Regions from separate parts of the Homo sapiens genome. Here region 1 is linked to region 2. A link means that fine-mapping ties the variant in region 2 to the expression of a gene that starts in the linked region. Tissue or cell type: fibroblasts. Region 2 holds a variant in brackets; the other region holds the start of a gene. All regions are shown on one strand. Distances are between the middles of the regions.

The links. PIP is the estimated chance that this variant, and not a neighbour inherited with it, causes the effect.
Region 1: it holds the start of SEMA4F, and the variant in region 2 is fine-mapped to the expression of SEMA4F in fibroblasts (GTEx, PIP 0.96).

What each region holds. Positions count from the first base shown.
Region 1 is chr2:74,651,589-74,656,760 of GRCh38, forward strand. It overlaps SEMA4F (ssemaphorin 4F), which reads left to right and starts at 2,659. Exons shown (of 14, transcript NM_004263.5): 1 at 2,659-2,933; 2 at 4,946-5,097. The coding sequence starts at 2,789. RefSeq lists a silencer at 2,506-2,935.
Region 2 is chr2:74,581,261-74,587,177 of GRCh38, forward strand. It overlaps M1AP (meiosis 1 associated protein), which reads right to left. Exons shown (of 11, transcript NM_001321739.2): 5 at 414-587. Among named protein-coding and RNA genes, the nearest start is that of DOK1, 29 kb to the left of the region's middle. The variant C/T (reference allele first, on the strand shown) is at 3,064.

The sequences.
Region 1 (5,172 bases), 70 kb after region 2:
ACATGAATGCATGTACTTAAGTGCAATTAGGTTGCACAATAAGAACCTCTTATTGTATGTTTTGTGAAAAAAATTGAAAAAATATTAAAAAAATCAAAAGACAACCAATAAGTCATGTTCAGAGAAGGGACTAAGGCCTAGACTAGACTGCTGAGAAGCAGCTTAGGAAAGGCATATAGTGGGCTAGAGGAAGAAACTCAGACGGGGGGCAGGGGTTCCATTGTGTTGAGGTTGGTTTTAGAAAGAAGATTTCAGAGAGAAGATTAGAAGTACTGATCCCAAATGCCTGATTTTCCCTCTAGGCTAAGCAATTTGAATTCAAGGACAATGGCTTTTTTTTTTTGGCAGGCTAGAGTGCAATGGTGTGATCGTAGCTCCCTGCAGCCTTGAACTCCTGGGCTCAAGTGATCCTCCTGCTTCAGTCTCCCAAGTAGCTGAGACTACAGGTGTGTGCCACCAGGCCTTGCTATTATTATTATTTTGCAGAGACAGGGTCTTGCTATGTTGACGTGGCTGGTCTCGAACTCGTCTTCAAGTGATCCTCCTGCCTCAGCCTCCCAAAGTGCTAGGATTACAGGCATGAGCCACCATGCCCAGCCAACGGACCATGTCTTAATCTTATCTCTAGTACTTAGTAAAATGCCTGGCACATATTAGGCCCTTAATAACTGTTGAAAGAACAAACTAGAACTAGTACTTGCACTTTAGAAAGATTATCCTGATGGCAGTCTGGAAGGGGAGGGACTGGAGGCTAGGTTTTTGTTTTTTAAATGAAATTATCACACAGTCCAGGTGAATGATGATGATGTCCTGAACTATGATGATAATGGAAAGAAAAGGATGGATTTAAGTTACTTTTTAGTCAGATTTATAAGGACATAGTGATTTCTTACATATGGGCATGGTAGCTAGTCTCCAAGAAAGGAGGCTGAAATCCTTGTATTCCCAGTGAAATCCCTGTACCACCTGGTGAAGTCCCCTTCCACAGTGCATCAGGGCTGCCCTGTGTGACAAGTAGAATATGGCCGAGAGATTGTGTGTTACTTCTGAGGCTAGGTCACAAATATATCATTTGCTCTTTTGCCTTGTTCTTTTGGATCACTTGCTCTGAGGAAGTCACCCCATTTTGTGAAGACATTCAAGCAGCCCCATGGAGAAATTCATGTGGAGAACAACCTTCACTTACTGCCAACAGCCACTACCAATTTGGCAGGCATGGAAGTCCGCCATCTTGGAAGTGGATCCTCCAGCCCCAGGCAAGCCTTCAGTGGACTGCTGCCCCGTTTGATATCTGGACTGTAATCTTGTGAGAGACTGGAAGCCAGACCACCTAGCTAAACTACTCCTAAATTTCTGACGCAGAGAGATTGTGAGAGATAATAAAAGTTTATTCCAAATGTCTGATTTTCCCTCCAGGCTAAGCAATTCGAATTCAGGGACCATGTCTTTTGTTTGTTTGTTTTAAGCCACCAAATTCTGAGGTTAATTTGTTACATTTGTTTTGCAGCCTAAATAACTAATACAATGGGGGTGAAAGAGGAGAAAGCAAAGACTACCTACTAAGTGCAGACTAAGTGCTTGAAGAAGGAGCTAGGGGCCGGGCGCGGTGGCTCACGCCTGTAATCCCAGCACTTTGGGAGGCCGAGACGGGCGGATCACGAGGTCAGGAGATCGAGACCATCCTGGCTGACACGGTGAAACCCCGTCTCTACTAAAAATACAAAAATTAGCCGGGCATGGTGGCGCGCGCCTGTAGTCCCAGCTACTTGGGAGGCTGAGGCAGGAGAATGGCGTGAACCCGGGAGGCGGAGCTTGCAGTGAGTCGAGATCGCGCCACTGCGCTCCAGCCTGGGCGACAGAGCGAAACTCCGTCTCAAAAAAAAAAAAAAAAAAAAAAAAAGAAGGAGCTAGGGTTGGGATGGAGGAGATAGTGAGTTATCCTCAGGACCTATGCTTGCCTTGTTTATAGGATATCCAAGTGGATATGCCCATAGGCAGTCTTTGTTCCTCGCCCTCAAAGGCCTACCAACCCTAGAAGAATCAGTTCAAATGTCACCTCTTCTGTGAGGCCTTCCTGATTTCCTCTGGCAAAACCTGGCCCTTCTGCACACTTATTGCACGTTATTATAGCAAACGTGCATTGCTTCGTATTGCAATTATCTATTTGCAGTTATTTGCTTACATTTGGAAGCCCCATTACAGTGTGAACTCCCTAGGGCAAGGGCCGTGATTTTTAGTATTTTCTGTATAATCGTGTGTGTGTGTGTGTGTGTGTGTGTGCGTGTGTGTGTGCGCGCGCGCGTTACACTGTGCCTGCCCAGCACATAGGCAGCCGTCCTTAAATGCTTGCAAAGTATTAATTTTGAGAAACTTGGTGCGTGTATCCACGTCCTCTTATTAGTAAGTTTTCCTTATTAGTACAGCTATGGGCGTTTGAGTTTTTGGAGTGGCCGGAGCAAACTCGCCACTCGAGGTCCCTGAGTGGCAGCCCCAGCGCACTTCCGAGGCAGAACTCCCACCTTCACCTGGGTCTAGCTCCGCCTCTGCCTGGGTTAGGCCTCTCCTCCCCTCAGCCCCGCCTTCACTCAATCCCGATTGGCTGGAGGAAGAAGGAGGCCCGACCATTGGCCCCTTTCTGAGGGGGCGGAGCCGGGCGGTGTTTCATCCCTCAGCCTCAGGCTGAGCCGGACCGAGCCGAGAGGACCCGAGTGGGGCCGAGGCCAGTAGCCCCGGGGCCCTGAGCAGAGGCCGTAGCTTGCGCCGCACCCGCGGCCAGGCGGAGCCAAAGATGCCGGCCTCTGCTGCGCGGCCCCGCCCGGGTCCCGGGCAGCCTACAGCCTCGCCCTTCCCGCTACTGCTGCTGGCGGTGCTGAGCGGCCCGGTATCCGGCCGCGTCCCCCGCTCGGTGCCCAGAACCTCGCTTCCAATCTCTGGTAAGGCGCGGACGCCCACGCCCTCAGCCCTTCGCGCCCACACCCACACCCACACCCACCTGCTCCTCAGACCGCTCGGCCGGACCCGGGCCTCTCAGCCTGGTGTATGGCGTTTCACGCCGCCCACGCCCCGCCGGGACCGGGGCGAGATCTTCGCACTTCACCGCATCCTCTCTGCATCCCTCCCGCGCCCCTCAGCCCCTCATCCCCAGCCCGGGCCTCGCGCCTCGGCTCCCACGACACGCCCAGGCTGCACCAGCGGGCCCTATTCCCGGAGCCGCAGGAGCGTCCAGTCCTCACCGTGCAGACTCGGACACTGAGGCCCAGAGCTCGGGTGGGGGCTGCCCGAGGTCGTTCATTTCGAAGTTCCGTCTCCCTTAGTCCCCTGTTTCCCCGCACATACACCTGGGTCCATCATTCCAGCTTGACGCCCACTCTGCTTTCAGACCCATCAGTCTTTCATTCTACTCCAGCTTTCCATTCCGATCTCCAGGTCAGCATTTCCATCTTCTCCAATTCATTTCCCTATCAGTTCTATACATCATCCGAGCCTCTTGGCCCTTCTGACAGCCCTTCCCGCTCCCCTGACATCTCTGACAGCAGCTCCCATTCTCCCATTATTGGATCCACGTTAACTCTCTTAACTTCCTCAGTGTTCCTCGCTGCCTCTGCCCATTCCCTACATTGAATATTGGTAAACCATTCAATGTGTTGATGTAAAGTTCTGCTTAAATGATTTTTCAAGTCTTCAGAAGGAAAAATAGAGGAGGGGGATATGATCCTTTGAAAAGATGTGGAAGAAGCTAGGAGACGTCACAAGGTTAAAAGTGATCATTGGGGCGATTCACATTTTAGACTCTGCTGAGGTGGGTATGAGCATGGCCGTGGACCTTGTTGTCTTCTCAGTGGGCATTGAGTGTTATTAGCACCTTGGGCAGACAGAACCAGTGAAGCCAAGAGTACAACCTGTTGGCAACAACTCTGGACTGGTTAATAGTAGTTTAGAGTTTAAATTCAGACTAGTGCCATATAGGGATGCTGTGATTCCAGAAGGCGAAGTTGTGGCCAGAGCCTGGGGTTTCAGTTTGCACCCAAGCAATAGCCACAAAGTAAGTTGAGATTGCCAGGCTGGGTTGATGTCCAGGCATCCAGAGATGTCTAGATGGCAAGCAAGGTGAAGCAGAGTTGAGGATGTGAGGGGAAGTTAGGTGATCCAGGGCTTATACTAAGCATGAGAGAGTGGGCACAGAGGTAAGTATGGGTGTGGGAGGAAGGAGTGGGCGGGACTCATCAGTACATCTAGGAATGAATGGGTTGGTGTCCAGTCTGCAGTCTTGAGGGTACTGAGCAGAGGAAGCAGGTAGAGCAGAGCTGTATTGGTGCAAGGGTAGGGTCCCCAGAACCAGAGGTTGAGCTAGGAAGGTAAATTCATGCCAACTTATTCCAGTCTTTAAATAGATACGAATTTTGAATGCTAATATGAGGTTTAGATTTTTTTTTTTTTTGAAGCGGAGTCTTGCTCTGTCACCCAGGCTGGTGTGCAGTGGTGTGATCTTGGCTCACTGCAACCTCTGCCTCCCAGGTTCAAGCAATTCTCCTGCCTCAGCCTCCCAAATAGCTGGGATTACAGGTGCGCGCCACCTTGCCTGGCTAATTTTTTGTATTTTTAGTAGAGACGGGATTTCACCATGTTGGCCAGGCTGGTCTCAAACTCCTGACCTCAAGTGATCCACCCACCTCAGCCTCCCAAAGTGCTGGGATTACAGGCGTGAGCAACCGTGTCCAGCTAGTGCTCTATTTTTATAGAAAAAGCATACTTACCCACTGGATTGTGTGCTAAATATTCTGGCCTCATCTATCTCTGGTTCACTTGTCAAGGCTGTGTTTCTCCCCCATGGCTGCTTAATAAATGGTACTTGGAAGAAAACAAAAATTGGCCCCTTTGGTTTTGCTCTTGTGGACTTGACCCTTAGGAAGCGATGGCTAACATCACTCTCCTCTCTTCCTGCCAGAGGCTGACTCCTGTCTCACCCGGTTCGCAGTCCCTCACACATACAATTACTCTGTTCTCCTTGTGGATCCTGCCTCCCACACACTTTATGTTGGCGCCCGGGACACCATCTTCGCTTTATCCCTGCCCTTCTCAGGGGAGAGACCCCGCAGGGTGAGAGACAAGAGAGGGAAGGACCCCTGACCCTGTAGCATGTGATTAAATCTATGATTTTATGAGTGTGTGTGG
Region 2 (5,917 bases):
ACCTTGGTTCTCTTCCTCTCGCCACAGGCTGTATTGATATTGTTGAGGTAGCAGCATGCTCCAAACTATAATGTCAATTATATTTACCACATTAAAAATGAGAATATTGAGAAATGTGATCCACTGTGTTCTTATGTAGTCTAGCCAATTCTCTGTCATTGAGGTGTCTCAGACTTTGCCCCTAAACTAACTGGCCCTTGCTGGTTGGGCTTAATTAGGTTCAGCTTTCTAACTATGATTGCTTCTTAGAACTTCTCTTCTTATTCCTCACGCTTATATTGGACAGCCTCATCCAACCCTCTTCCAGTCCCTAAACCTCAACGATGCTATATTCCACTGACTCACCACCAATCTAGAGTCCTGATCCCAGATAAGAATAATCATAGCCTAAATATCTTTTGGGGATTATGTACTTGGATTATCTCTGGGTCTGGAAATGTTGCTGAAACACTGTGAAGAAAGAAGAAGATGGATTTGTTCTTGGTCTGTTCCACTGTTATGTAGCCAGGCTTTGAAGAAAATCTCCATGCTGACGATATCATTGTCTATAGTCTGAAGGTCAATGTCAGTTCCCAGAATAGAACTCTCTGCAAAAGAAAGGGAAATAAAGTGTTCACTTAGATTGTAAATTTTGAGTAATATAAAATTTTGAACACATCCATCTTTTCTTTTTTGAGACGGGGGTCTCATTATGTCACCCAGGCTAAAGTACAGTGGCTATTCACATGCACAATCATTGCTCACTGCAGCCTCCAAATGCCTGGGCTCTAGCAATCTTCCTGCCTCAGCCTCCTGAGTAGCTGGGACTACAAGCACTCACCACCACGACTGACTAATTTTTTAAAAAACTTTTTTTTAGAGATGAGGTCTCGCTATGTTGCTCAGGCTGGTCTCTAACTCTTGGCCTCAAAGCAATCTTCTTGTCTCAGCCTCACAGGTAGCTGGGATTAGCTGGGATTATAGGCACTTGTCACTGGCCCAGCTTCCACACCTATTTTTTGATCCATTGACTGTATCTCTAGACATCTAGCCTAGAGACATTCTTGAGCAGTACACAAAGGCATATGCAAAGATGTTTGGTATAGCATTGCTGTAATAATAAAAACCCCAAACGGGAAGCAGTTCAAATCCCCTCAATAGGGAATATTTAAATTATGACACACTCAAACTATGGAGTATTACGTGTTTGTTAACAAAGCTAAATGTACTGACATGAAAAACTAGGAGATAGTAAGTAAATAAAGGAAGCTGTAGAACAGATATAACATGATCCCATTTATATAAAAATAAAACTATCTACATATATATATGTAAATGCATTTTACAAAGCTCTGGAAGGCTATCATCAAACTGTTAACAGTGGACAGGAAGTGGAAATAGGGCAGGGTTCTGAGATACTTTCCCTTTTTACTCTTCATACTTCTATACTGTTTGAATTTTATTGGAGTTGTGCATTTCTTGTGTTAAAAAAAATTCTAGGTGGGGCATGGTGGCTCACACCTGTAATCCCAGCACCTTGGGAGGCTGAGGTGGGTGGATCACTTGAGCTGAGGAGTTCAAGACCAGCCTGGCCAACATGGTGAAATCCTGTCTCTACTAAAAATATAAAAATTAGCCAGGTGTGGTGGCGGGCACCTGTAATTCCAGCTACGTGGAAGGCTGAGGCACGAGAATTGCTTGAATCTGGGAGACAGAGGCTACAGTGAACCAAGATCAGGCCACTGCATTCCAGCCTGGGCAACTCCATCTCAAAAGAAAAATAAATAAATAAATAAAATAAATAAAAAATAAAACATGGGAGAAAGAAATCCACTGTAAAAACAAACAAACAAACAACCCCAAAACATTCTAGAATATAAAAACCACCAAAAATTATACAGCAATGCAAATTAAATACTTAGTTGAACAAAGGGGACTTCAGCTTCATGTTATTTTACAGTGAAAATGTGTTCTATTACTACTTGTTATAAAAAATTAATTTAAAAAAATTAAAAGGAAAAAAGATGAATTTTGGGGTATCCCCTTATAGTAGAGAACCAAGCCTGGAGCATCAGTCATTGGCATACTGTATCTCACAAGTGTGGTTAACAGCAAAAAGGATGGGGAGGGTCTGGTAGAGTGTGATTTAATTCCAAATCTGAATGAATGGAGCTGGGTAGGTGGGGTAATGAGGCTTTGCTGGTGTACTTCCAGCTTCGGGCAACACTAGCTAAGGAATTGGGGCCTGGGTCTGCAGGTAAAGGTCATCAGTGAAAGCCAAATATGAGGTGGTGGAAGAAGCACAGAGCAAATAAGGGAAGAACTAGAAAGAAGCTGAGGGGGAACTCTACTTTCCTTGCTTCATCAGGAGGGATCTCTGAAATACTTTTACAAAGGGCCTAAGAAAAGCCAGTTGCTCCAATGAATTAGCTTCTGTGTATGACTCATAGACCCCAGGGAGAAGGCTGGATTATTTCTAGAATGACATTCCTGAGGACAAGTTTGCAGAGGTGGCAGACTTTCCACAGGGAACAAAGGGGCTTCAGTCCAACATACTTGTTCCAACACAGGGGAACTGTGGTGAAAATGACTTCATGTCATATTTAACAACTTATCCTGCAGCTGAAAAGGGGCATCAAATGCATTTCTCTATGGCCAGAATGATAAAAACTCTGCCATCTTCCATGAATAGTTATGAGGATTCATTGTTAACTAGTTAGTTATTTCATTCATTCCATCAGATATATCTGACACTCTGTGCCCTTATGGAGTTTATAAAGCAACATGAATCTTGACCATTTTTCCCCAAACTCTCATCTGCCTCATTATGTTTTAGGGTACTACTGTGATATATATAAAGTCATTGCCAAAAAAACATTCCTTGCAAGTAAAGAGAAATATCTTTTAAAAAAATAATGTGCATTTTATTTTGTCACAGGCAAAACAAGGAGTAATTTAATTTTTCTAAGCCTGAAGCCTGTACTTTGATTTGAGTAACAAGTATGAAAATGACTCAGCAGCTTCTCTTCAGTGAGGCAAAACAGTTCTTAAAGCATAAAGTGGCGGCTACTAAAGCAATGCAAC[C/T]GAGGCCAGGCATGGTGGCTCATGCCTGTAGTCCCAGCTACTTAGAAGTCTGAGGCAGGAGGACAGCTTGAGCCCAAAAGTTCAAGACCCACCTGGGCAACATAGTGAGACACTGTCTCAGTTGCAAAAAAAAAAAAAAAAAGAAAAAGAAACAGAATTGAGCAAAGGAGCTAAGAAAAGTAGAGAAGATAAACTTGCTGAGTTGAAATAACAGAATTTTTGGGAAAAGAAGTAAGTGTTTCTTTTCTTCTCCCCAGGGAAAGGGTGGATGATGAGACACTCCTACCACAGGCAATGTGAGGGAGCAATGCAAAGCCATGTCCCATCAAGAATCTGGAAGTAAGGAAAATAAAGGTTTCCTCAGAGAGTTAAACTATAAAATCAACCAGAATGGTGAGGCCAATGAAAAAGTTACCCTAAGAAGGCAGAATGGCTTATTGTCCAAGGCAAGATTTGGCTGTAGCCTTATTGATGTTATTGCCATATATATATATATATATATATATTTTATTATTATTTTTTTATTTTATTTTTTTTGAGATGGGGTCTCACTCTGTCACCCATGTTGGAGTGCAGTGGTGTGATCTCAGCTCTCTGCAACCTTCACCTCCTGGGCTCAAGTGACTCTCCTGCCTCGGCCTCCCAAGTAGCTGGGAGTACAGGTGTGAGCCACCACACCTGGCTAATTTTTGTATTTTTTGTAGAGATGGGGTTTTACCATGTTGCTCAGGGTGGTCTCAAACTCCTGAGCTCAAGTAATCCATCTGCCTTGACCTCCCAAAATGCTAGGATTGCAGGTGTGAGCCACCTTGCCCAGCCTATATTGGCATATCTAAAGAATGAATGTGTCTATTGGAAGGGGAGAGGGTTGGCCAGAAATGCAGCACAGAGAAGGGGAACAGCGATGCGTGCTGGCAGTGCCCATCTTAAGTGCAGCTCAGAGAAGGCATGTGGACTCAGTGATGTGTCCCAATTGCAGAGATGTGTTTGTCAAGTCTCTGCTCTTTTTTGTGATTATGGTTATGGTTCTCCCTCTAAAACATTCTGGCTTATCCTTTAGTCTTGAGCTTAGGAAGGTGCGTGTTTTGCTGGCAAAATTAACTTTCTGATCCTGCGAAGCTAAAGAACCAGGCTTGAAGCACAGCCTCTCTATGAAGGAAAATGTCATGTGGTTAGGTCCTCCTGGCAGCCAGCCAGGCAGCAGTCTTCCCTGTTGTCACCCATCGATGTTCTGACATTCTTTTCTAACTTCTTAACCTACATGTTCTTGGAAGAGCCATGAAGCAGAACTGATTTCTTGAAAAAGTCCTCATATAATCTCCACAGAGGTGCTGTGTGTCGGGTTTGAGCTTTCAGTTTTGCAGTTTCAGAAGGGAGTGAGCACCTCTTGGGGGCAGACTTACATTATCCAAACTAGAGACTTATGTGTAAACCAGAACATTTTAGAGGCTAAACTTTTTTTCCATTTTCTTTGTCATTCTAGGAATTCATTTCCTTGTCCCTGATTATGGCAGTAGCTTCTTAACTGTCCTAGCAAACTCCATTTCTTCCCCTCCATTACTTATTATTACTACTACCAGTTACTTTTTCTGAAACATGGTTTCATCAGATCCCTCCTTTGCTCAAGAGCACACACTGCCTTCTTGTTGTCACTCACTCATCCTGTATCACTTGGTACTACTCATTATTCTACAAGTACCCTACCCTTCCCTTCCTCTGTGATGGCTCAGACTATTTCCTCCTCATCACTACCTGTTGAGATATTGCCATCCTTGAAGACCGAGTTCAAATGTCACCTCCTTCATGAAGTCTGCCATTATTGTATTCCTTCCATTATTATAGTCCCATAGCTTTTGGTTTACATTTGTAATATAGTTCACATTACATTTTACCTTAGTACTATTGTTATTTGGGAATACGTTTGATCTCTCCCATTTAAATGTAAATTAAAAGGTGGGAATTGTTTCTTTTCACTTTTATCCTCCCTATCAGGGCCTTGTATAGAGCTGAAGCTTAGCAAATGCCTGAGTTGAACAGTGACTCCCTCCTCCTCAGCTCTCATTACTTTTTCCTGTAACTCTTGAGCTTCATCTAAGTTAGTCTCCTTGCCACATGACTTCCTTCCTTCCTTAGTGCTTTCATTAATGTTAGCCCATGGCCTGCACCTCTTCCAGAATTCAACTCAGGACTGACTTTGTCCAAGAAGTTATGCTTAACTATATCCTCCCTTATCTAGCTTTAATTGCCATCCCTGGGTATCTGTGGGCTTCATTTGGGCAATATTAATCGCACTGCTGATTTATTTTTTTTTAAAGGATTTTCTTCTCTTTTCCTGAGTTTATGAAAGGCTTAATGGAAAGACCAGGGTTTGACTTGAGAATTAAAAGTTGTTAGCAGCCGGGCACGGTGGCTCACGCCTGTAATCCCAGCACTTTGGGAGGCTGAGGCGGGCAGATCACCTAAAGTCGGGAGTTTGAGACCAGCCTGACCAACATGGAGAAACCCGGTCTCCACTAAAAATACAAAAAATTAGCCAGGTGTGGTGGTGCATGCCTGTAATCCCAGCTACTTGGGAGGCTGAGGCAGGAGAATCGCTTGAACCTGGGAGGTGGAGGTTGCAGTGAACTGAGATCGCGCCATTGCACACTAGCCTGGGCAACAAGAGCGAAACTCCATTTCAAAAAAAAAAAAAAAATTTGTTAGCTATGTGATTTTGGGCGAAGTGGAATAGTACAACATATTTCTTAGTAAAGCACTACAAAGCGAGATGATTATCTATAAATGGCATCCAGTAGGTCCAACAAATATAATTTTCTTCCTTTTCTCTCATCCACAAAATGAACTCTTTTAGGAT